3 separate regions of the Homo sapiens genome follow, and regions 2 and 3 are each linked to region 1. The links come from fine-mapping of genetic effects on plasma protein levels. A gene starts in region 1. Each other region holds a variant in brackets. All regions are shown on one strand. Distances are between the middles of the regions.

Evidence for each region. A credible set is the group of variants that fine-mapping cannot tell apart. PIP is the posterior inclusion probability: the model's chance that the variant is causal. Protein levels are from antibody-based Olink assays in UK Biobank. Linkage for the fine-mapping came from a reference panel and not from the study's own genotypes, which makes the PIPs less certain.
Region 2: its variant is the best candidate, but not a certain one, in a credible set for the plasma level of the IL2RA protein (UK Biobank, PIP 0.58).
Region 3: its variant is the best candidate, but not a certain one, in a credible set for the plasma level of the IL2RA protein (UK Biobank, PIP 0.84).

What each region holds. Positions count from the first base shown.
Region 1 is chr10:6,059,119-6,067,468 of GRCh38, forward strand. IL2RA (interleukin 2 receptor subunit alpha) reads right to left here and starts at 3,249. Exons shown (of 8, transcript NM_000417.3): 1 at 2,970-3,249. The coding sequence starts at 3,033. RefSeq lists an enhancer at 2,960-3,009, a cis regulatory region at 3,002-3,632 and a silencer at 6,634-6,834.
Region 2 is chr10:6,014,457-6,022,456 of GRCh38, forward strand. It overlaps IL2RA (interleukin 2 receptor subunit alpha), which reads right to left. Exons shown (of 8, transcript NM_000417.3): 4 at 7,022-7,237; 5 at 5,414-5,485; 6 at 4,972-5,043; 7 at 3,597-3,663. LOC124902368 (a long non-coding RNA gene) reads left to right here and starts at 1,002. Exons shown (of 3, transcript XR_007062042.1): 1 at 1,002-1,075; 2 at 1,808-1,876; 3 at 6,880-7,038. LOC124902573 (small nucleolar RNA SNORA14) reads right to left here and starts at 2,738; the gene lies at 2,598-2,738. The variant C/T (reference allele first, on the strand shown) is at 4,014.
Region 3 is chr10:6,106,502-6,113,499 of GRCh38, forward strand. It overlaps RBM17 (RNA binding motif protein 17), which reads left to right. Exons shown (of 12, transcript NM_032905.5): 6 at 2,185-2,241; 7 at 3,485-3,626; 8 at 5,709-5,860. Among named protein-coding and RNA genes, the nearest start is that of RBM17, 21 kb to the left of the region's middle. RefSeq lists an enhancer at 1,309-2,004. The variant G/A (reference allele first, on the strand shown) is at 3,825.

The sequences.
Region 1 (8,350 bases):
AATTCCTGTTGATTCCAGAAACTTGACCCCTGTCATTGTCTTTGGCCACTGGGTCCTCATTTGCCTTGTGATTGGACTATTTTAAGAGCCTCATGACCTGTCTCTGTGCACCTGATCTCTCTCCACTCTATGCCAGTATCATCTCCATAAAGCGCTGACCCTGTTTGCAATGAACAGAAACAGAACAATCCAGGGAGACCAGGTTCAAACCCTGGCACTCTCACTGCCTGTGCGAGTCTGAGTTTTGGGTTCTTGCTTCATCTAGGGGTTCATGATATCCATACTGCAAAGTGGCTATGAAGATTACAATAGGACACATATCTGGCACATAGAAGTTACTTTATAAATGGTAGTTTTAAATTTTCTTGTAGTTCTTTATTGCCTACTAGGTGAAGTTAAGAAGTTATCACTAGGAGAATTCTCTTTCTGACCACATCCCAGGGCCCAGCAATATACAGACTAAAAATGCCTAATGCCTTAGATGATTCATTTTACCTCATCCTAACTTTCCAGTTTGAATTCCCCATATCCCCACCCTCCCTGTCCAGGGCAGGAGCACATTGGACCACCTGCTGCTCCCTAAGGCACTCCTGTGTTTTGGCTCATTGGGGTCTCTCTCCCTGGAATCTCATTGATGGAAATTTACTGGTCCCTTGGGGCTCCCTTTACATGTCATCCTCATGAAGCCTTCTCTGATAGCCCAACGCTCCGTAGATCTTACCACACTCTGACTGGTATTACTATATTTATATCTATGTTTTTCTCCTCCTCACCAGGTTATAAGTTGCTTAAGTGTCAGGACTATATCTCCCTCATTTTTGTATTTCCTATAGTGTTGAGGGGCAGATGGGGTATGGATAGATGTTGAGAATGGCGTGAAGGAGTCCTTATGGGACTCTAGTTCCCCTGCTCCCTCCAAGACCACTCAGACCCTTGGATAAGTCACCAATAGCTAGAAATAACACGAGTTTACTTGAAATGTGTCTTCCAGAGGCAGAGCATGATTAATTGTCAAGATTTTCCTGTTCTTGGCTTAGACTGAGTTAGCAAAGACCCTGTGGATGTAGAAATCACATTGAAAAACCTTCCTAAAAGTATGCCCTCTTTATAAGAACGGCACGATGGACTCTGAGGACTCAGGGGAAAGGGTGCGAGGTGGGTGAGGGAAAAGAGACTACGCACTGGGTACAGCATACATGCTCAGGTGATGGGTGCACCAAAATCTTACAACGCATTGGGTACAGCATACATGCTCAGGTGATGGGTGCACCAAAATCTTACAAATCACCACTAAAGAACTTATTCATGTAACCAAACACCACCTGTCCTCCAAAACCTATTAAAATAAAACACATAGGTCAGGCGCGATGGCTCACACCTGTAATCCCAGCACTTTGGGAGGCCATGGCTGGTGGACCACAAGGTCAGGAGTTTGAGACCAGCCTGACCAATATGGTGAAACCCCATCTCTACTAAAAATACAAAAATTAGCTGGTCGTGGTGGTGCACGCACCTGTAAACCTAGCTACTCAGGAGTCTGAGGCACGAGAATTACTTGAGCCCATGAGGTGGAGGTTGCAGTGGACTGAGATCACGCCACTGCACTCCAGCCTGGGCAACAGAGTGAGACTCTGTCTCAAAAAGTAAAAAAAAAATAAATAAAAATGTAATAAGTAAATAAAATGCCCTCTTTAAAGACACTCCTACATCTGGGCCAGTACACAGCCCAGCATGACTGGGCACTTCCCCTAAACAAGCAAGCAGACTCCTGAAATGCATCATTATGTTTCATTTCTTAATAAATTCTTTCTACAGCCAGTTAGCATTCTACTTGTTGCCATTATAGACTTTCAAAAAACACTATAAACTTTCTTATCTGTCTTCCTGAGTAAGCAAAGGGAAGACATTATTAGAAAATTCACACTCAATTAGGAAGAGTGGTTTGAGGTAGAAGTTGGTGGTTTTTTATTTCTTTAAAAAAAAATATTGGCCAGGCACGGTGGTTCATGCCTGTAGTACCAGCAGTATGGGAGGCCAGGGTGAGTGGATCACTTGAGCCCAGGAGTTCAAGACCAGCTTGGGCAACATGGCAAAAACCCCATCTCTACAAAAAAATAAATTAACCAGGTGTGGTGGCGTATGCCTGTAGTCCCAGCTACTCAGGAGGCTGAGGTGGGAGGATCGCTAAGCCTGGGAGGCGAAGGTTGCAGTAAGCCAATATCGCGCCACTGCACTCCAGTCTGGCTGACAGAGACAGTGTCAAAAAAAAAAAATCTTCGAGAAAATCCATTTGAAACAAGGAATGAAATTTAAAATTTGCATATATAAACACGTATACATATACATATCATGTATATACATAGGATTATGAGAAGTAGTAATGTTCTAAAAGTGAGTATGCATATTTTTAAAAATTTCTGTAAAGTTGCACTTGTAAGGAAATTCCTAGGTGTTATTTCCTAAGACGTAAAAGCAGTGTATACATCCTTGAAGCTAAACTTTTCTGAGATCTTAAATTCTCCCAGTGTTTGATATATGAGTACTCATGTCTCCAGCAAATTAACCTGAACTTAAAGAGCTTCCTGATAGCTTCTTAGTTGGGGGGTGGGAGTGCAGAGAATAAAAGGAAATTCATTGAAGAATAAAAGATAATTTCTTGAGAAACCTGCTCATCGGGACCCTGTTAACATCCAAATATCCCAAATATCATGCCACACTATTCTTCCCAGAATTAATTGTCAAGGACTGAGAAGGACAGGAGAACCTAATGCTATTTCAGGCTCTCTTGACAGACCAAGGAACAGTGAGGCATAAACTGGGGTCCCCGTGGGTCACAGGCAAGAGGTGGAACCCAAGATTCAACTCCCTTCTTGGAACCATCTACCTGGGGACTCCCTCTGGTTCTGTGGCTGGGAAGAGGGATGCCCATCAGCCTTCCCGGAATTCCGGGGGCACCCACAGGCCCTTACCTGCCTGGCAGCCAGGCACCATGATGAACGTGAGCAGTCCCCACATCAGCAGGTATGAATCCATCTTCCTGACCCTTGGGACCAGCCGGGGCAGTGAAGCGGAGGTCTTTCTCTGCAGAAGGCCCAGTTGCCGTCAGCCTCTTTTTGGCATCGCGCCGGAGGATGTGGGATGGGAAGATCGGTCCGCCTGGGCTGTCACCCTTGTGGGTCCATCCAGTCTCTATCGGAGTCAGGAGTTGCTCTCTTTAAGTATTGGGCTGGCGTGTTCAGCCAGGAAACTGCCTAGCACTCTCTTCTCTCATCTCAAATATAGGAAGTGTTTTTTTTTTTTTTTTTTTTTGATGACAATATAGTTTGCGGTAATTTTTCAAACCAGGTTTTTTTTTTCAAGTTCAATTGCTGGAGGTGTGGGCTGGGGTTGATGAGAAGGATTGAACTTCATTTATGAATCCTTTCTTCAGCTACGCCCATAAAAGGAGAGGGAGATTCCCCTGCCGTTGAAGGTAGGGTGAGCAAGCACTTCTTGGCAGTGGTCTCACCCAGCACTTCATAAGCTGAGTCCTCCCCTCAGGGCTGTAACGTCCTCAGGAGTCAGCCGGGACCACCTGGGATGAAGGAGCAAAGTCCTGACAAGATTCTGGTCAGGCAGCCTCCAATATTCAAATAATGGAGAAGGATGCGGCGAACTGAAGGATCCTGAGAATTCATAAATAATTCCCCAAGGCTTATAACCTGTACTAGCCATCATCATTTCACCACAGTGCCCTGGGCTCCTGAAAGTGCATTGTCATTTTATAAGGTGTTTTGCTTCCAGATTTCTTTCTCTTAAAGGATCATGCAAAAAGTGGGCTTTGGTTTTAAACTTTGGATTATTTTGTAAAATTCAGTCTTGCTTATTTATTGATCAGAGCTCTCTTCTGATTATTATGAAATGGTTGAGTGTGTTTTGCTCCCTGGAAATTTGTCTAAGACTTAAAGCCATTGCATAGTTAGAGCAAAACACAATTTTTTAAATACTAGAAAGCAAGCAAAGATATTAACAAAAAGAAAACCCTCCGGGCAAGCCAAGGAATTCAGGGTTCCAAAACACATCACGTTGACTGGGCCTGGTGGCTCATGCCTGTAATCCGAGCACTTTGGTAGACCAAGGTGGGTGGATCACCTGAGGTCAGGAGTTTGAGACCAGCCTGGATGACATGGTGAAACCACCGTCTCTACTAAAAAAAAAAAAAAAAAAAAAAAAAAAAAAAAATTAGCCAGGCGCAGTGGCACACGCCTGTAATTCCAGCACTTTGGGAGGCTGAGGCAGGCAGATCACCTGAGGTCGGGAGTTTGAGACCAGTCTGGCCAACATGGTAAAACCCCATTTCTACTAAAAATACAAAAATTAGCCAGGCGTAGTGGCGGGCGCCTGTAATCCCAGTTACTCAGGAGGCTGAGACAAGAGAATAGCTGGAACCGAGGAGGTGCAGGCTGCAGTGAGCTGAGATTGCGCCACTGCACTCCAGCCTGGGCGACAGAGTGAGACTTCCATCTCAAAAAACTTGTCAAAATATGACAAGATTCTCTTAAATTCCACAGCAGGTATAACTTCCTCTCTAGGAACGTTTCTCACTCTGCGGGCAAGTGCTCCAGTAGAAACTCCTAGTACTCCCACCAAAGTCACGCTCCTTTCTTCTTGGGCATGGGAGTAGAATGCACTTGCTGCCTCTCCTGGAAAATAGCTTATGCTTTAAGTAGTTAATGTGGATTGTCATTATAAAATATTTAAATTTATGTTAATGTCTTTTTTTTTTTTTTTTTGGAGCGCAATGGCACAATCTTGGCTCACTGCAACCTCTGCCTCCCAGGTTCAAGTGATTCTCCTGCGTCAGCCTCCTGAGTAGCTAGGATTACAGGCACGCGTCACCACATCCAGCTAGTTTTTGTATTTTTAGTAGAGACGGAGTTTCACCATGTTGGTCAGGCTGGTCTCGAACTCCTGACCTTAGGCGATTCACCCACCTCGGCCTCCCAAAGTGCTGGGATTACAGGTGTGAGCCACCACGCCTGGCAATTACAAGATTTTTTTAAAGCCATATCACAAAGCCCCCACAATTTTTCTGGTAAATAAGAGGCCCAACTCTTGGTTCTGAGATGGACCATGGTTAAACAAGTCATTGAACTGGCTTTTCTGGTTCACCTTACGGATGAACGCTCTGTCGTCGTTTGCTGATGCTGAGGTTTCCAGTTGATGCTGCATGGCACGATGCAGGGATGTGAGAAGAAGTTGGGGGTGCAAAAGCAGACCCATTTTGTCACGGATTGCCCAGGATCTCATACTGAAGCTGTAGCAAAGCTTTTGCCCTTAATGAGTTTACAGGTGAAATGGAAAGACACTTGAGTGTCCCTTCCTCCAGGAGGCCTTTTCCAGTCCTTTCTACTCCATCATAACACCTGCCGTGCTGCATTGCAATTCACTGTTTATATCTCTTTCTTTCTTCTAGTTGCTGTTAATCTTTTTTGGATTAAAAACTCTTTTTTGTTTTTAATTTAAGTTCCAGGATACATGTGTAGAACGTGCAGGTTGGTTACATAGGTATAAGTGCGCCATGGTGGTCTGCTGCACCTACTCACCTGTCTTCTAAGTTCCCTCCCCTCACACCCCACCCCCCACCCTGCAGCAGGCCCTGGCGTGTGATGTTCCCCTCCCTATGTCTATGTGCTGTCATTGTTCAACTCCCACTTATGAGTGAGAACATGCGGCATTTGGTTTTCTGTTCCTGTGTTAGTTTGCTGAGGATAATGGCTTCCAGCTTCATCCATGTCCCTGCCAAGGACATGATCTCATTCCTTTTCATGGCTGCATAGTATTCCATGGTGTATATGTATCACATTTTCTTTATCTAGTCTCATTGATGGGCATTTCAGTTGGTTCCATTTTGCTATTGTAAATAGTGCTGCAATAAACATACGGGTGCATGTGACTTTATAGTAGAATGATTTCTATTCCTTTGGGTATATACCCAGTAATAGGATTGCTGGGTCAAATGGTATTTCTGATTTTAGATGCTTGAGGAATCGCCATACTGTCTTCCACAATGGTAAAAACTCTTTTCTTAATTTGATAGAACCTTTGGTTTCCCTCCTTGGAAAAAATGCACATCAGCACATACTCTGGATAAATCCGTAGGAAGTTTCAGGAGCATTATGGGCAGTTTGTTTTGTTTTGCTCTGTTTTGTTTGAGATGGGGTTTCTGGAGTGCAGTGTTGCCATCTCAACTCACTGCAGCCTCTACCTCCTTGACTCAAGTGATCCTCCCACTTCAGCCTCTCAAGTAACTGGGACCACAGGCATGCACCACCAGGCCTGGCTAATTTTTTTTGTAATTTTTGTAGAGATGGGGTTTTGTCATGTTGCCCAGGCTGGTCTCAGACTCCTGGACTCAAGCGATCCTCCCACCTCAGCCCTGCAGAGTACTGGGATTACAAGTGTGAGCCACCACACCCAGCGGTTGTGGGCACTCTGAACTTCAAAGGTCCAAGGATCTCAGGTTAAGGTGTCAAACTGTGGGCCTCTAGAGGATAGCCCTATGTCCAGTTTATCTGTGAACTTACGTCACCTAACAAAGTGCATAACACATATGGGTGTCCAACCACTATGTATGAAGCCACATGTGCATACAAATATAACTAGCATATACTAAAGCAGTTTCAGACAAATTCTTTGTGAGGCAAATTCAAAGTTTTGTTTCAAACCTGCTGCAAGGAGGTAATTTCCAATAAGTCCGGTTCAAAGATTTCTTTCCTAGTAGAGGGTTTTTTTTTTTTTTTTTTTTTTTGAGGAAAGTTATCTAGATAACATTGGTAGATTAAGTTCAAGAAAGGAACAAGTTCAAGAAAGGAACATTTGGTTAAAAGTAACTAGGTTCATCCAGGGACAGCCGGTCAACAGTGCAAGCTGAGTCTCACTTCATCAGGAAATTGCTCAATTCTATTATCAGAAATGTTTGGTACTTCCTAGAAGAAACTGCTCAGAACAGCGGACAACAAATTTCTGACCTAGACTGCCTTCCCTTAGGTTTAAGACCACTTTCTTTCTAGACGTACAGTGGGGTGAATACTAATGATTATGGTAAGAAGAGCAATTGAAATGTAGGAGGGAAAAGTTGTTGAGCTGATGTGATCAGGAAAGGCCCACGTATTGTCCTTGAAGGATGGATACGGCCTTGGTAGGTGGTTCCTGAGGAAGCAGAGTGTGGTCCATAGTTAACCAGAAGTAGAGAGGGGTAGAAGCTAAGGGCAGAAATATCAGCTGGATTCAGAGTCAGGTGGACCTCGAAAAACAGAATAAGATCTATGGACTTCAGCCACTGAAGCTGTCTAACCCAGGCGGGACATAGCCAAGTGATGTGATGATGAGGCCGAGCTGGTGTGGTGTGCAGGGAAGATTGAGGCATAGAGATGCTGAAATACTCTTCAGGAAGGAAATCATAAGGACTGGAGGAAGGTGAAATAAATTGGAATGGCAAGGAGGCTTGATGCCAGAATATCAGGCAAAGGGAAAATGCAGTTGGTAATGCCTGGATGTGGGGCAAGAAGCGGGGAACAGAATTTGTGAGCTTTGGCGAGGAGAAAATTCACTGATTTGAGCTCATCAAATGGATTGGCGAAATTCAAGTGTGTGAGGCTGAGGTTAGGGGATGGCAGAGAGGCAGTAGCATTTGTGAACAGGAGTTAGTTGTTCACTTGGGTTGTTCTCTTGTTCCTACAATGTTGGACAGTCCTTGAAGACAGCATTTATTATCCAGACAACTCTAAAGCTTGACTTGCCACCCCCCTAGCCCCAACCACAAGAACGAGTTTTCAGCTTGCAACAAAAATCATTTCTGTTTATTAGAGTCTAGATTGGGGAGCAGGGGCAAAGAGTAGAGGAAAAAAGGGGAGAGGTGGTGAGGAATCAATCACCTTTCATTTTCCTTTACTTACCCTTGGGGCTTGTTAACGGTCACTTCCACAATGCCCATAGAACCGGCCGAGCACGATGGCTCACGCCTGTTATCCCAGCACTTTGGGAGGCCGAGGCAGGCAGATCACCTGAGGTCAGGAGTTTGAGACCAGCCTGGCCAACATGGTGAAACCCTGTCTCTACTAAAAATACAAAAATTTGCCGGGCTTGGTGGCACATGCCTGTAATTCCAGCTACTTGGGAGGCTAAGGCAGGAGACTTGCTTGAACCTAGGAGGTGGAGATTGCAGTGAGCCAAGATCACACCGCTGCACGCCAGCCTGGGGGACAAGGGCAAAAGTCTGTCTCAAAAAAAAAAAATGCCTGTAGAACCAAGTGGCACAGATGCCCGTATGAAATGAATAACCATGAATAATTGAATGCAGAAAAAAAAA
Region 2 (8,000 bases), 45 kb before region 1:
TGTGGGAACTCACATAGGTTCACACAGTTATTTGTTTCACAACATAAACACTGAACCATTCCTACTTCCAAATAGCTTTGTCCTCTGGGCCCGAAGGCTTTTGATCTTCAAACTAACAAATGAAAAAAATCCTTGCAAGGTGTTAAGGCTTGTCAGGTGTTCAGCCTGAGGAAGGAGAGGATGCAAGTACTGAGTACACGTACAACATGTCAGCCACGTCACATCCTTCCCCTCCTGGAAGCCTAAAATGACACCTTAGGAGTCAGCTAACCCCTTAGAGAAACTGGTAGACTGCCGGGTATATGAATCATTCCTGCTACAATAACCCTAGGGGGCTTATCATTTGCACTGCAGTAATTTATACTTTTTAATTCCCATGAGGAAAATTAGGAGTATGTTATGGACCTGATGACCCATATAAGAAGGGAAGAGATATTTTATTTTTCTCTCTGGCTGGGCTAAGGGCTTTGGTTTTGGGGGAGTGGATCTGTATTTTCTCAGGGTCTTACTGTGGAGTTTGTATCAGGGTTGGCCAGAGTGGATGCTGGCAGGGGTCAGGGAGGCCCTGGATAATCAAGAGAGAGACAGAGGGAGTTTCTAGAGTTTACTTTTTCTTTTTCTTTCTTTTCTTTTTTCTTTCTTTCTTTTTTTTTTTAAACAGAGTCTTGCTGTGTCACCCAGGGTGGAGTGCAGTGGTACGATCTCAGCTCACTGCAGCCTCTGCCTCCTGGGTTCAAGCGATTCTCCTGCATCAGCCTCCCGAGTAGCTAAGATTATAGGTGCGCACCATGACAGCCAGCTAATTTTTGTATTTTTAGAAGAGACAGGGTTTCTCCATGTTGGCCAGGCTGGTCTCAAACTCCTGACCTCAAGTAATCCGCCTGCCTCGGCCTCCCAAAGTGCTGGGATTACAAGCGTGAGTCTGGCCAGCTTCCCTGATTCTTAATGCTGTTAGCCTAGTGCGGTGATCCTCAGAGTCTGCTCCCTGGAACGGCAGCGTCAGTATCACCTGGGAACCTGATAGAAATACAGATTCCTGGACCTAAGCAAGACGACTGCGTCAGAAACTCCACAGGTGGGACCCAGCAATCTGTGCTTTAACAAGGCCTCCAGATGATTCTTTCAACAAATGTTTTTAAGTTGACACATAATAGTTATATATATTTATGAGGTATGTAGGGATGCTTTGATACCTACAAGGTACAGTGATCAGATCATGGTATTTAGCATATCCATCATCTCAAACATTTATCGTTTCTTTATGTTCCTACAGATGATTCTGGTGCTAGTTCAAGTTTGAAAACCAATGGCCGGGTGTAGGGTTGTCAAACCTGGATGCATATGTATTAGATACATCTGAGGGGCTTTAAAACGTACGACTATCCCAGACATAAAAGGCCACGTGATTCCATTTACACGAAATGTCCAGAATAGGCAAATCCATAGAGACGGAACATAGAGTGGTGGTTTCCCGGGGCTGGGGAGAATGGGGAACTTGGCAGTGTGGGGCTTCTCTTGGGAATGATGGAAGTATTCTGGAATCAGTGGGGATGGCTGTACAACATTGCAAACATACTAAATACCACTTACTGTGGTTTGAATACATCCCCCAGAGCTCAGGTGTTGGAAACTTAATCCCTAATCCAGCAATGTTGACAGGTGAGATCTTGAAGAGGTGATCAGGTCGCGAGGGCTCTGCCTCATGAATGGATTAATGTTGTTATTGCAGGAGTGGGTTTGTGATAAAAGCTGAGTTCAGCCCCTCCTGCTGTCTCTCACTCTCTTGCCCTTCTGCCTTCTGCCACAGGATGACGTAGCACAAACGCCCTTGATACATGGGGGCCCCTCGACCTCAGACTTCCCAGCCTCCAGAATGGTAAGAAATCTCTGTTCTTTATAAGTTATAAATCTCTGTTCTTTATAAATCTCTGTTCTTTATAAGTTACCCAGTCTCAGGCATTCTGTTACAGTAGCACAAAATGGGCTAAGACACCACTGAACTGTACATTTTATGATGGTTAAATGATGAATTTTATCTCAATTAAAAATACGTACTGATGTCTTGGGCTCACCCCAGACATTCTGACTGGAGCCCAATCATTGATATCTTTTACCTTTTTCTTTTTTTTTTTTGAGACAGAGTTTCACTCTTGTTGCCCAGGCTGGAGTGTAGTGGCGCGATCTTGGCTCACTGCAACCTCCGCCTCCTGGGTTCAAGTGATTCTCCTGTCTCAGCCTCGCAAGTAGCTGGGATTACAGGCACCCACCACCACGCCTGGCTTATTTTTGTATTTTTTAGTAGAAACAGGGTTTCAGCATGTTGTCCAGCCTGGTCCTGAACTCCTGACCTCAGGTAACCACCTGCCTCAGCCTCCCAAAGTGCTGGGATTACAGGCATGAGCCACAACTCCTGGGCTATCTTTTAACTTTTTAAATTATTATGCTGTTTTGGCTGAACAACCTACATAAGCTACAAAAATATTTCCTATTGCAACAAATTTGTTCTTCTATTGTTGCAAATGAAGATTCCCCCCAAATTCAAAGTGGGTCACAATGGTTTTGGTGACAGGATTTCCCTCTTGTAAACCTCTCTTAAAAGATGTCACAGCTATGAATAACACTGAGCCACAGGAGAAGCACAGCCCTTTGGACTGCCTTCCTTTTCCTGTGGAATTTACTCATATCTTGCCACTCACTGGTATTTTAGAAGACTGTCTCCTGGATGTTCTAAGATGCATGCAGGGTTGAAAATCTGAGTTAATGCAAAAAGACCACACATGGTTTACATTCCTGGTCAAGGGGATGCCGGTGTGAGCTTCTGTGGACGGGAGGGTGGGGAGCACAGGATAGGCAAAGCTCAGCATAGATGCTGCCCTGGGTCCTCTATAGGTAGGGGCTGGGTGGGAAAATCATGGGCTCTAGATTCATGTTGCAGTGCTGGCCTCTGCTGTGCCATCTTCTCCAAGCTGTTGCATCTCTCTAGGCCACAGCTATTCCAAAGGTTTCTGAGAAGGTAGATTTCAATAATGTTTATAAAACAAGCATCAAGCCTGGTGTATAGTGGGTGCTCAATGAATGTGAGGCTCCTTTGCCTTCCCATTTCCCTGGTCGTTTAATTTTTTTTTTTTTTTTTTTTTGAGACAGAGTCTTGCTCTGTCACCCAGGCTGGAGTGCAGTGGTGAGATTTCTGTTCACTGCAACCTCCGCCTCCCAGGTTCAAGCAATCTTCCTGCCTCAGCCGCCCAAGTAGCTGGGATTACAGGCACCTGCCACCATGCCCAACTGATTTTTTGTATTTTTAGTAGAGATGGGGTTTTGCCATGTTGGCCAGGCTTGTCTCAAACTCCTGACCTCAGGTGATCCACTCAGCCTTGGCCTCCCAAAGTGTTGTGATTACCAGCGTGAGCCACTGCACCCGGCGGTGCTTTAATTCTTTTTAACTGACTCTTTCCGAGGCATGGATTGGCCTCTCCCTTTGCCACTCCCTGAACTGCAGGTGATTAGAGAGAGCATGGAGGGGGTAGGGGGGAGGCAGGGTGGGGCTGGGTACAGGACTTTGATCTGACCAAGGGCTGCCTTGGTGATGCCACACTTACTGTCTCCGCTGCCAGGTGAGCCCACTCAGGAGGAGGACGCTGATCAGCAGGAAAACACAGCCGGCCACTGTCAATAGAGAGAGGGAGTTCAGCAAAGGGCCCTGGGCTTGGCATGGGGGCAGCAGGAGCCAGGGCCACAGGGCAGGCTGAGGACATCCCCAAAGAGCAAGGCGGAGGCTGCAGCCTCTCTTCCCTGTCTCAGGAAGTAGGTCCCTCCCCATGGGATTTCCTAGGAGTCTTGAGGAACAGGGCAGGGAGGACAGGGTGAGGGTGGAGGGAGCTTCCCCTCAGGAGGCACCCTTCTCTCACAAAAGCCCCTCAGAAAGGCTCAGAGGCCAGGCCTCGTTTAAGGACACCGAGAGCGCCTGGTAAAAGAAATGTTGAAATATGAAGATGATGAGAAGCACATTAACATCT[C/T]CTGAAAGAGGTCGGGTTTTCCAGATGCTGCTCTGCTGAGGTTTTGGAGGCTGACATTTGTTTACTTTCTAGGCAGATGCAGACTCAGAGTCTGTTTTTCCCTCCTACCAGGAAACAATGGCAGTGTTTCTGGAAGCCTGTCCTCTCTGACTGGCTACGTGGCTCCTTCCTCCCACTCTTGACCCCTGGCAGAGGCCCGGGGTACAGCCCTTCCAGATCAGCTTGAGAGGAGCTGATAGGGCTGACTTGAGACTTTGCTCACAGCATCCTGTAACTGGTTCATGCGAATTCTGAGTTACGTCAGTATCTGGATTAGTCTTTCACTCACACATTCTGCAGTGTAAGGAAGGGGTCCTTTCAGTCAACCAACCAACCTACCAATCAACTAACCAACTAACAAACCTACTAACCTACCAACAAACTAACCAACCAACCAATCTACCAATCTATCTACCAACCAACTCACTAACCAACCAACCAGCTAACCAACCAAACTACCAACAAAACTACCAACCAACCTGCCAATCTACCACCCTAACAACCAACCTACCAACCAACCTATCAACTTATCAACCAACCCACCAACCAACCTATCAACTTACCAACCAACCTATCAACTTATCAACCAACCCACCAACCAACCTATCAACTTGCCAACCAACCTACCAACCAACTAACCAACTAACCCACCAACCTGCCAATCTACCAACCTACCAACCAATCAACTAACCTACCAACATACAAACCAACCTGCCAACCAAGCAACCAACCAACTAACCAACTAACCTCCCAACCTACGAACCAACTTACCAATCAACTAGCCAACCTACCTATCAACCTACCAGTCAACCAACTAACCAACCTACCAGCCAACCAACTAACCAACCTACTAACCAGTCAACCTGTCCATATCTCAGCCTGGTGTACATTTTGTCCACAAAGCCAGTGCCCCACTCACCTGCTACCTGGTACTCTGTTGTAAATATGGACGTCTCCATGGTTGCAGCCATTTCTGTCTGTATTTGAAAATCTGTGAAAAAGAGATAAAGAGAGACACTCCTGCTACCGTGACTTTAGGACAGCACGAGGCTAAAGGAAGTCAGGGTGTCTCTGTGAATGAGAAGCTCAGAGGCTGGTGGGAGACACGTGGTGGTGGTGAGGGAAGGTGTTCCATCTCTGCCTGGGGACCGTGCTTGGTCCTGGTCCTGGGTTCCCTCTTTCTGACACTTGCTTTGGGGCCTGCAGGTTGCTGAGGCCCTGTCCCTGCTCAGAGGGAGAGGAGGCTGCTGTGGGCTTCTCCCCTACAGGTCACCTCCGCCTATCTCCCTGAGCCTGGCTCCTGGTCACCTCTGCCCTTTTGGACTAGGCCTCTGTGGTCCAGCGTTTGTCTTCTCCCGCACCTGTTGTTGTGACGAGGCAGGAAGTCTCACTCTCAGGACGGCCTTCGGGGCTTGCCTGAGGCTTCTCTTCACCTGGGGGAGAGAGTAAGTGATGCTGGTGGAGCTAAACACAGGAGTCAGGGCCTCACTCCCACCCCGCCTGCCCCAGGCAGCCGGCCCCAGACACGCCCGAGGAGGCAGGAATCCTGGTGTGGGCACTTCGCCAGGGATGCCACCCCTCATGGTTCCACAGCAGGGGCACTGGGAAGCGGTGAAGTGGTCTCAGCAGAGCAGACGAGGCTGAATTCTAACTCTGACCCTAGCTGTCCCCAAAACTCTGAGCAATGCTTTCTCCCCAGCCTCCCTCCCCAGTCCTGGTTTCCATCTGTGACTTGGAAACAGGTCATAATAATACGAATGCCATTGAACCACTGGATGGAGCAGAGATGCACTAAGGGACAGCTGCTTCTGTGCCAGGCTCTCCACTTCTCCTGAGGGGTCAGCAACCCTGGCTCTGCCCTGCCTCTCACCCTCTTCCAAGGAAGCAGCAAGCATTCCCTGGCTGTCAGGGTGGCCCAGGGAAGCAGCTAAGGGAACAAAACAGCCTCCCTAGGGAACCCAAGAGAAGGACATGGAGTATGAGAAGTGCAGTGAGCAAGAAAACCAGGAATACTTGTGGTTGAATGTAAGTCACTTTTTTTTTTTGAGACGGAGTCTTGCTGTTGCCCAGGCTGGAGTGCAGTGGTGTGATCTCAGCTCACTGCAACTCCACCTCCTGGGTTCAAGTGATTCTCCTGCCTCAGCCTCCCAAGTAGCTGGGATTACAGGCACCCACCACCACGCCCAGATAATTTTTGTATTTTTAGTAGAGACGGGGTTTCACCATGTTGGCCAGGCTGGTCTCGAACTCCTGACCTAAAGTGATCTGCCCGCCTTGGCCTCCCAGAGTGCTGGGATTACAGGTGTGAGCCACTGTGCCCAGCCTGCATGTAAGTCACTTTTGATTGTCGTGATACTAATAAGATTTCAGAAGGAAGACAGCAGGAGACCTCGACATCGGTGGGCTGAGCATTTGCATGAGTATGTGTGTGTGTGTGTGTGTGTGCGCGCATGTGCACTGAGTAAGTCCCGACTCTGCACATTTTATGTTTATTTTTACAAGCTCAGCTGGGGAATGGCACAAGGGGAAGGAACATGCTGACCGTGGAGGGCTGTTCAGATCATGCATTTACACGATCACCAGTAAGAGGAAAAATGTGTGAGTGGGAAACTGGACTTGCCCTTGGAGCCAGAGGAGGCCTTGGTGGCTTAGAGAAGTAGTGGACTTAGGACCAACTACGAGGCAGCATCTAGGGTGCTTAGGAGAGGGCTTTCCTTCTCTTCTGTCTCCAACCTTTCTCCCCACTCAGGGCACAGGGGGACCTTCATTGAAGGAGCCCTTAGAGTCCATCTGATCTGGTCTATTTAAATTTTTTTTTTTTTCTCAGAATGAGAAAAAATGGAAGCCCAGGGAGATCAAGGGTCTTGTCCAAGGACCACTCTTGTCCAGCAGGAGTGGTCAGGGATTCCACTCTGGTCAGCCTGATGGAGCAAAGCAACATTGTGGACCCCAGAAGGGAGCCACCCTACCTGGAAACTGACTGGTCTCCATTTCACCTGTGCATATGAGCTGGGGCTGGGTCCACCTTGTCTTCCCGTGGGTCATTTTGCAGACGCTCTCAGCAGGACCTCTGTGTAGAGCCCTGTATCCCTGGACGCACTGATAATAAACCATCTGCCCCACCACGAAATGATAAATTCTCTCTGTGGCTTCATTTTCCCATGGTGGAGGTTCCCTGCAGTGACCTGGAAGATGGAAGGAATGCTCTGAAGGCAAGTTGGGGACAGCACCGCGAGTGAGTCCAGGTTGCCTCTTGCTAGGGACTGGACCTTGGTTCTTACTCTCTTGACTGCTTGCTCATCCTTTCATTCAACCAATATATGTTGAGAACGTCTGAGCGTGGGGAAGTTTGCTAGGCCCTGTAGGAAGGCACGAAGACCCTGTCACTCCTGCAAGGGGTGGACAGTGGATTGGGTAAGAAAGGCATGTGAAGGATAGCAGACGTTGGCAATGGGAACACAGAGGAATGAGCGATTCATTCTGGTTGGTGCGGCCCCGAGACAGGAACGCCACAACTGCCTCTTGGAAGACAGTGCAGGTGTTGACAGTGGACAGGAGTGGGCGGGGCAGTCTCAGCTGAGACACAAGGGTAGGCTCAAGCCTATTTGGGCCAATGGAGCATGAAGACCACCTTGGATTTCTGCTGGACAAGTGAGGAAGTGCATTCTTGGGGGCAGCGGCTGGGCATCTTGGGATGATGTCGGAAGGATTGGGGACAACACCAAAGCCAGGAGGAGGGACGGGCTGAGGGAACCTCAGAGAAATGGAGCACCATCTCTGATCAAGCCACACCTGAAGGTTGACACACATGCGCCCTTTCAAGACGTCTCAAAATTTCCCATCCCCAGAACTTTCCACTCACCCAACTACATCCCAGGCCTGACGGACCTGTGGCCTGAGACCATGTCTTGTTCTGATTAAATCTCTGAATTCCCCACCCACAGCCCC
Region 3 (6,998 bases), 47 kb after region 1:
TGTCTTTACCTGCAGCACAGTCCAGTTGGCCGATGCTGAATCCACTCTGTTGTTTCTCTTAGGGGGGAAGCATAGTTAACATTGAGTGTGTCTGTTTTGGGCATTGTGACACATTTCATATCCGCTATCTTAGTTAATCCCCAAATGTTTGGTTTTTATTAACTTCTTTTGGAATTCAGTATATAGGTTGAATATTTGTAGGTCTCATTTTTCCAGCTTATAAATTGACTGCCCTTTTTAATAAGGAGGCATGCTTTCCATACTAAGGACATTTGTTTTTTTTTCTTAAACACCAGCAGGAACTAGATAGCTTTGAATGAGAAGACTTTGTTTGACCTTGTAGCTCATGATAGGGAGGTAGTGGCATGCCCATCATATGTATAGTTGTTGACAGATTGATGTTCTTATTTTAATGTGATTAGTAGCAGATTTCCAGTAATCACCCTGAATTTTTTTAACTGAACTTATTAGAGCTAATCTGCTTTTCAGAATCAGTAATCACTCTAGGTCCTAGTGACAAGGTTAGTAAAATGATCATGGAAGTATTTCAAAGGAAATAGAAGAAGGTTTTACTCAGGTTCATATTTCTCCTTGAGGATTTTATATCATCCAGTCCTGTTAATCAAAATGCATGGACACTGGCTTTAGAATAATTTCTAGAATAATTCTTTAGAAGAATGAATTTATTTATTTTTGAGATGGAATCACTCTGTTGCCCAGGCAGGAGTGCAGTGGTGCAATCTCGGCTCACCACAACCTGCAACCTCCTGGGTTCTAGCAATTCTCTTGCCTCGGCCTCCAGAGTAGCTGGGATTACAGGTGTGCGCTACCACGCCCATCTAATTTTTACATTTTTAGTAGAGACAGGGTTTCACCATGTTTGCCAGGCTGGTCTCAAACTCCTGACGTCAAGTGATCCACCCACCTCAGCCTCCCAAAGTCCTGGGATTACAGGTATGAGCCACTGCACCCGGCCTCTTTTTTTTTTTTTTTTTTTTTGGAGACACTCTTGCTCTGTTGCCCAGGCTGGAGTGCAGTGGCGCCATCTCGGCTCACTGCAACCTCCATCTCCTAGTTTCAAATGATTCTTCTGCCTCAGCCTCCCAAGTAGCTGGGATTACAGGTGTGTGCCACCATGCCCAGCTGATTTTTGCATTTTTAGTAGAGATGGGGTTTCACCATGTTGATCAGGCTGGTCTCAAACTCCTAGCCTCAAGTGATTTGCCTGCCTCAGCCTCTCAAAGTGCTGGGATTACAGGAGTGAACCACTGCGTCCAGCCAGAATAATTTCTTTTGTCAAACATTTTGTGCTGATGCAGCATGACTTTGTAATCAATTTTTAAAGTTTTACATTTTGTTTTTATTTCATTGTTGATTAAGCCATAATACATATGTATTATGTAATATTATGTATACGTAATCCATATATGTTAGGACTTATGCCTAATGCAAAATTCCTTGTGGTCTCCACTGATGTTCTCCTTCCAGTTGTCGGATACCAGATAAAAAGATCTGTCTTATCTCTTTTGGTTTGTTTGTGTTCACCATTCGTTGTCCAGGAAATACACCAGGAATAGTGACAACACGCAGCAGTTTCTTCAGGAGCCAGAAGGACCCACGCTTTCAAATATGTGTTTAGTTCCAGTGGTTTGCACACTGGAAAAGGAGCGTGCTGTGTGGTGGGGGAGATATGGCAACGCAGGGAGCTGGGTTTACTCCCTTTCTGTTGATTCACTCCCCTCTGATCATTCTCTTATTTGTAAACTGGATGCAGTAATATCTACTTCAGAGGTCTGTGAAGCCTGAACGAGGCCATGTGTATAAAGGGCCTAATGGGTATTGCTCTCGGTAAATAGTTACATTACTCTCTTTTTAAGTAACTGCTGGTTCTCTTGGTTGTATTGTTTTGCCTTAAAATTCATTTGCAGACTACATTGTGGGGCTCTTGAGTTCCTTTTATGAAGGAACAATTTTGCATATCTGAGGGAGTGTTGCCACTTTTCTACATTTTAAATCCTAGCATCAGAGGTTTGTTCATATGTAGCAGGAGGTCATCTGAAGTAGCAGGTCCTCCTTTTTTAGTTTTTTCTTAGGGGGGTGGGTGATAGATATATGGTGTGTCATAGTCGTTTGGGAGTCTGGCATCGGAAACCTCCTTTAATGCTTGGATTTGTGGTTTTGCAGGTATGGGCGGAGCTGCCATTGCCCCACCCACTTCTCTGGTAGAGAAAGACAAAGAGTGTAAGTAGATCTGTTTCTTCCTCTTTTATTCTGATACAGGTCTTTAACCCAACCATGGGGGATCTCAGCTTGGGCCCCCAGGTTTCCTGAGCGTAGAGGGAAACGGCCTGCAAGCCTGCCTGGCTCTGTCACCTGAGGCCGCACCTGGATCTCAGAATGCAGCGCCCTCCTGCAGAGAGAGACCTTTCTACGCCAGGCTCTGAGGCTTGGATTTCATGCAGTGGGATCCATCTCTTTTTTATGCAATTCACTTTGATTTCATTAACATTTCTTATTTGTTGTTAGATTCATTTGGAGTTAAAACAGCAGATCGTTACAGTTTTTTAACTCAGAGGTTTAGAGGCTGTTATATTCATGATCCTCCACAAGGTGGCAATGCCTTCCTTGATTAGATTTTTTCTTCCCGTTCCATTTCACTGCAGGTGGGTTTGCGTGTCATTGCGTTGCCAAAACACCCTCACCCACTGTTCCTTCTCGCAGTGATCTGCTCTAGAATTTGGGGGTTGGGACTGGACTTCTGAATATCATCTAGGTCATTTTCCCATTCTCTGGATTGGACCATACTTAAACTATCCCAAGCAGATATTCTCATTTATAGTACTTTTTAAAACTTGTTGAATTCTTTATCTTTTAAAGAAGATAATTTCTAAGATATTATGAAATACCTATTATGTGAAAACAACAGACAAACAATAAACCCCAATTGAAACTAGTCTCTGGGAGTGGGGCTCAGGCATCTGGATGGTCTTAAAGCGTCCTACTGACTTTCATCTAACTAGGGTTGAAGCCACCGCTCCAGTGCGTAGCCCCTAACCTCGGACACCTTTGTGGGCCATGAGCTGATGAGATAGTGAGGTCGGGGTCTAGACAGGTGCACCCAAGTTACTGCAGGAGTCAAAAGATGGCCAGATTGTATCTCCTTAGAACATACAGAACATCTTTCCGGCAAGAATATTCATTCAAGAAGATTTTAAAGGGTGAATAACATTTCAGTAAGATATAAAAAAGACGTTTGAGGAGATAGAAATAGCAAAAGGAAAGTTAGAATCAGGAAAGTAGCGTCCTCCCTCTGTGGTTTTAAAAAAAGTCGTATAAAGGCTGTAAAATTGATTTGGTGTTTTTCTCTCCTTGTGGTAAACCAAAAAGTAGGTTAAATTTGTTCAAGATAAATAATTGATACAAGTGAGGTTTCAGAGTGTTTTCTATAGTATTTTGGTGAGCCTACTTTATTTTTCTCCAATAGTACCCCGAGATTTTCCTTATGAAGAGGACTCAAGACCTCGATCACAGTCTTCCAAAGCAGCCATTCCTCCCCCAGTGTACGAGGAACAAGACAGACCGAGATCTCCAACCGGACCTAGCAACTCCTTCCTCGCTAACATGGGGTAATGATTTAATGTTCTTATCTAAGGACTTGAGAGACAGTGTGAAGCGTTGATAGCCCTTTCAATAGATGCAGCTTGTTTGAAACTGAGGACATTCAGGACCCTTGGTGTGTGCAGGTCACACGGTACCTGCCTCAATCGTGTGGAGCGTGTTCCAGTGTAATGATGGGGCTTGTTCAAAACAGCAACCTCCCAGTA[G/A]AAGTTTTGACTCATTTTGATGTTGAACATTATTTTCCTAGACAGGCACAGAACCTGATTAATGTTTACATTTGCCTTCATAACGTTTGCAAATAAAATAGCTCATATGAATCAGAGCTGACTTACTGTCTCCAAAGGGCAGGTGATACCTTTTTTTTCCTGATAAAGTGGGCCATTTGCTTTCAGGTCATGGTTCTAAACCTTTGGTCTAAAAAACTCGGGGTCATTCTAACTACAAGTTGACATGTTTGCCAGCATATAAAATTTGACTGTAAGGCTGACGCTCAGGTGGGGCTTGGGGATTTTTTTAAACTGTGCTGGGCTTGGCAAACATTTTGGTTAAGAGGATATTCTGTGTTGTTGACTTTGATCCTGTGAGACGGCTGTCCCATGAAGCAGTATCACATGAAGGCTTTGTTCTGTGCTGTGTTGCATCTGCTGGCTGCTGCCTGTAGCAGAAATGCAGCCGGTGAGACAGTGAGTGGGGTTGAAACTCACTAGTCTCCTTTCAAGTGCTCAGTGACCACATGCAAGTGGTGACGATGTTGGATGGTGCAGACATAGGACATGGCCGTGGCTGCAGGAAGCTTTGTGTACTGGAGGGTTGGACAGACATGAAGCTGGTTTTGTTTTGTTTTGTTTTGTTTTCCCTGTTTATGATAAAAACTGACTTTTTAGCGAATTTGCTTTTAACCAGGAATTACATCTTTAACTTGTGCTTAGGAAAGATGCAAGATGGTACCATTCAGCAGTTTCTGGTCTTTTTAGCCCTAGAATAGCTTGTTCAAATGAAAATGTTAAGGGAATTAAATACAAGAAGTAATGTAGGTGCAGTTCCAGTTGAAGCGGGATTTTGTGGCTTAAGCCCTAAGCAGCAGTGGTCATGGGGTTGGGGTGCCCTTCAGACCCATGCTGCGCCTCAGAGCGCAGTGTGAGAGCCATTTGGTTGTTACAGAAAGCAGTGACTGAGAGTTGTGGGGTCCAGTTTCAGCTCTACCATTAACAGCTGTACAAATAATTTATTTGTTTTCTGAGATGGAGTCTCGCTCTGTCGCCCAGGCTGGAGTGCAGTGGTGCGATCTCGCCTCACTGCAACCTCTGCCTCCCAGGTTCAAGCAGTTCTCCTGCCTCAGCCTGCCAAGTAGCTGGGACTACAGGTGCACACCATCATGCCCAGCTAATTTTTACATTTTTAGTAGAGATGAGGTTTCACCATGTTGGCCAGGCTGGTCTTGAACTCCTGACCTCAGGTGATCCACCCGCCTCGGCTTCCCAAAGTGCTGGGATTATAAGTGTGATCAACTGCACCCAGCCTGTACAAATAATTTCTAATATGGCGTCTTGCATTACTTCTAAGTCCACCCCTTAAGCTAGTCAGCTAATCTTGGCCTCCGTTTATTTCTCATTTGTTAAATAGGTGATCTCTAAGGGTTCTTTCATTTGTATAGTCTGTCATTGGAAACTCTCCTGTGCTATTTAGGAAAATGGGATCATCTTCATTGTACGAAACTTCATACTTACTTTTTGATAGCCACTTTTTAATAAACTGTGGTCATAAGCTATGTGGCAGTGCAGGTCCGGAGCACACAAAAGGTCTTGTGTTTCCTAGCAGGGCACTGAGGAGACTCCACCAGAGAAACTGACATTTCCCCTCCAAGACAACAGGATGTTCTGGATTTTATTCATAGCTTTTTCTATTTCTTTCATGCTGCACATCCCCACAGCTTCCATCTAATAGCCCACTCCTAGTTAATGAGTGACTTTGTTGAAGCCCCTGTGGAGCATGCACTCTCTCCAGAAGGAGGTTGTTGTGATGGAAAAATGCAACCTATCTCCAGTTGACGATGTCAAGGCTAAGAGTCCTTTCCCTTCTTCTCCTGCCAGGGGCACGGTGGCGCACAAGATCATGCAGAAGTACGGCTTCCGGGAGGGCCAGGGTCTGGGGAAGCATGAGCAGGGCCTGAGCACTGCCTTGTCAGTGGAGAAGACCAGCAAGCGTGGCGGCAAGATCATCGTGGGCGACGCCACAGAGAAAGGTGTGTCCCCAGGGAAGCGTGTGACTAGAGGGAAAGGACTGGCCCCATCCATATCAGACATGGCCAGTCTTGATCCTCATGTGTCAGCAGGGGGACAATGAGGCGTGTGGCCAGAGGGAGAGGGCTGGCCCTGCCATCACTAGAACACAGGCCGTCCTGTTCATATGATGCACTGCCACTTCCGTTTTGTGAAACCAGGAATCCTGAGGCTCATCTTTATTTTTTCAGAACAGACGTAGAGAGATGAAGGCTTGTGGAGGAAAAGATGGTGAGAGACTTGGGCAGAAAATGAGTAGTCCTCAGGAAGAAATCTTGGTTATGTGTTTAGAGCATGAAGGACAGAGCCATATAGTGTGGCAGTGAATATACCTGCTATCTCCATCTCAGAGGTCGTCTCTACTTTTCCCTTTTGCCCTTTCAGTATAGATGTGATTTCTGATTCTCTTACAGATTGTTTGCTTTGCGAGATCTGATGTTATGTTGCAGTCTCTTGGTAAATGATGCCTAGTTGGTGTTTTATTTTCATTTAATTTTTACAGTCTGTTCTGTGTTGAGGGAATTCAGGAAAGAGACAAACATATGTTAGCATTTTAATCAGGGAATTAAGTTTGAGTCAGCCTAGCTGAACTTCCTTTGCTAAAGAAAGAAGAAAACTTTTCTGGCAGCCCCGTTCATGCACAGCTTAGGATACATCACGAGCCTGACAGGTGAGTGCCAGAAACCAACAGTTGTCCCGACTTGTGAGGTTATCTGAAGTAAGGCAGCCGGTGGCTGGATTAGTAACTGCATATTCCCCTGGGCCCGTGACCTTGAACGTTTGCTCCAAGTCAACTCACCTATAGGAATTATCACTCACATGCCCTGTCAGCCCTTTGGGAAGTGAGATGAGCAAAAATTGCAAGTAATGGTGGAGGCTCAAAACATCCAGATGCTATTGTAAAAACATGCCAAAGCAAAGCAGAGGCTTTTATTGCAGATAAGGCTGTGTTTTCGCTCAGAGACCAATTGTGTAGATGCCTAGGACATAAATGGTGGGGATCGCTATTGAAATTAAATTAATTATTGTAAGTAGGACTCAGTTCTGTAACACATCTAATGATATGCTGCTCAGTTCTGTAACACATCTAATGGTATGTTT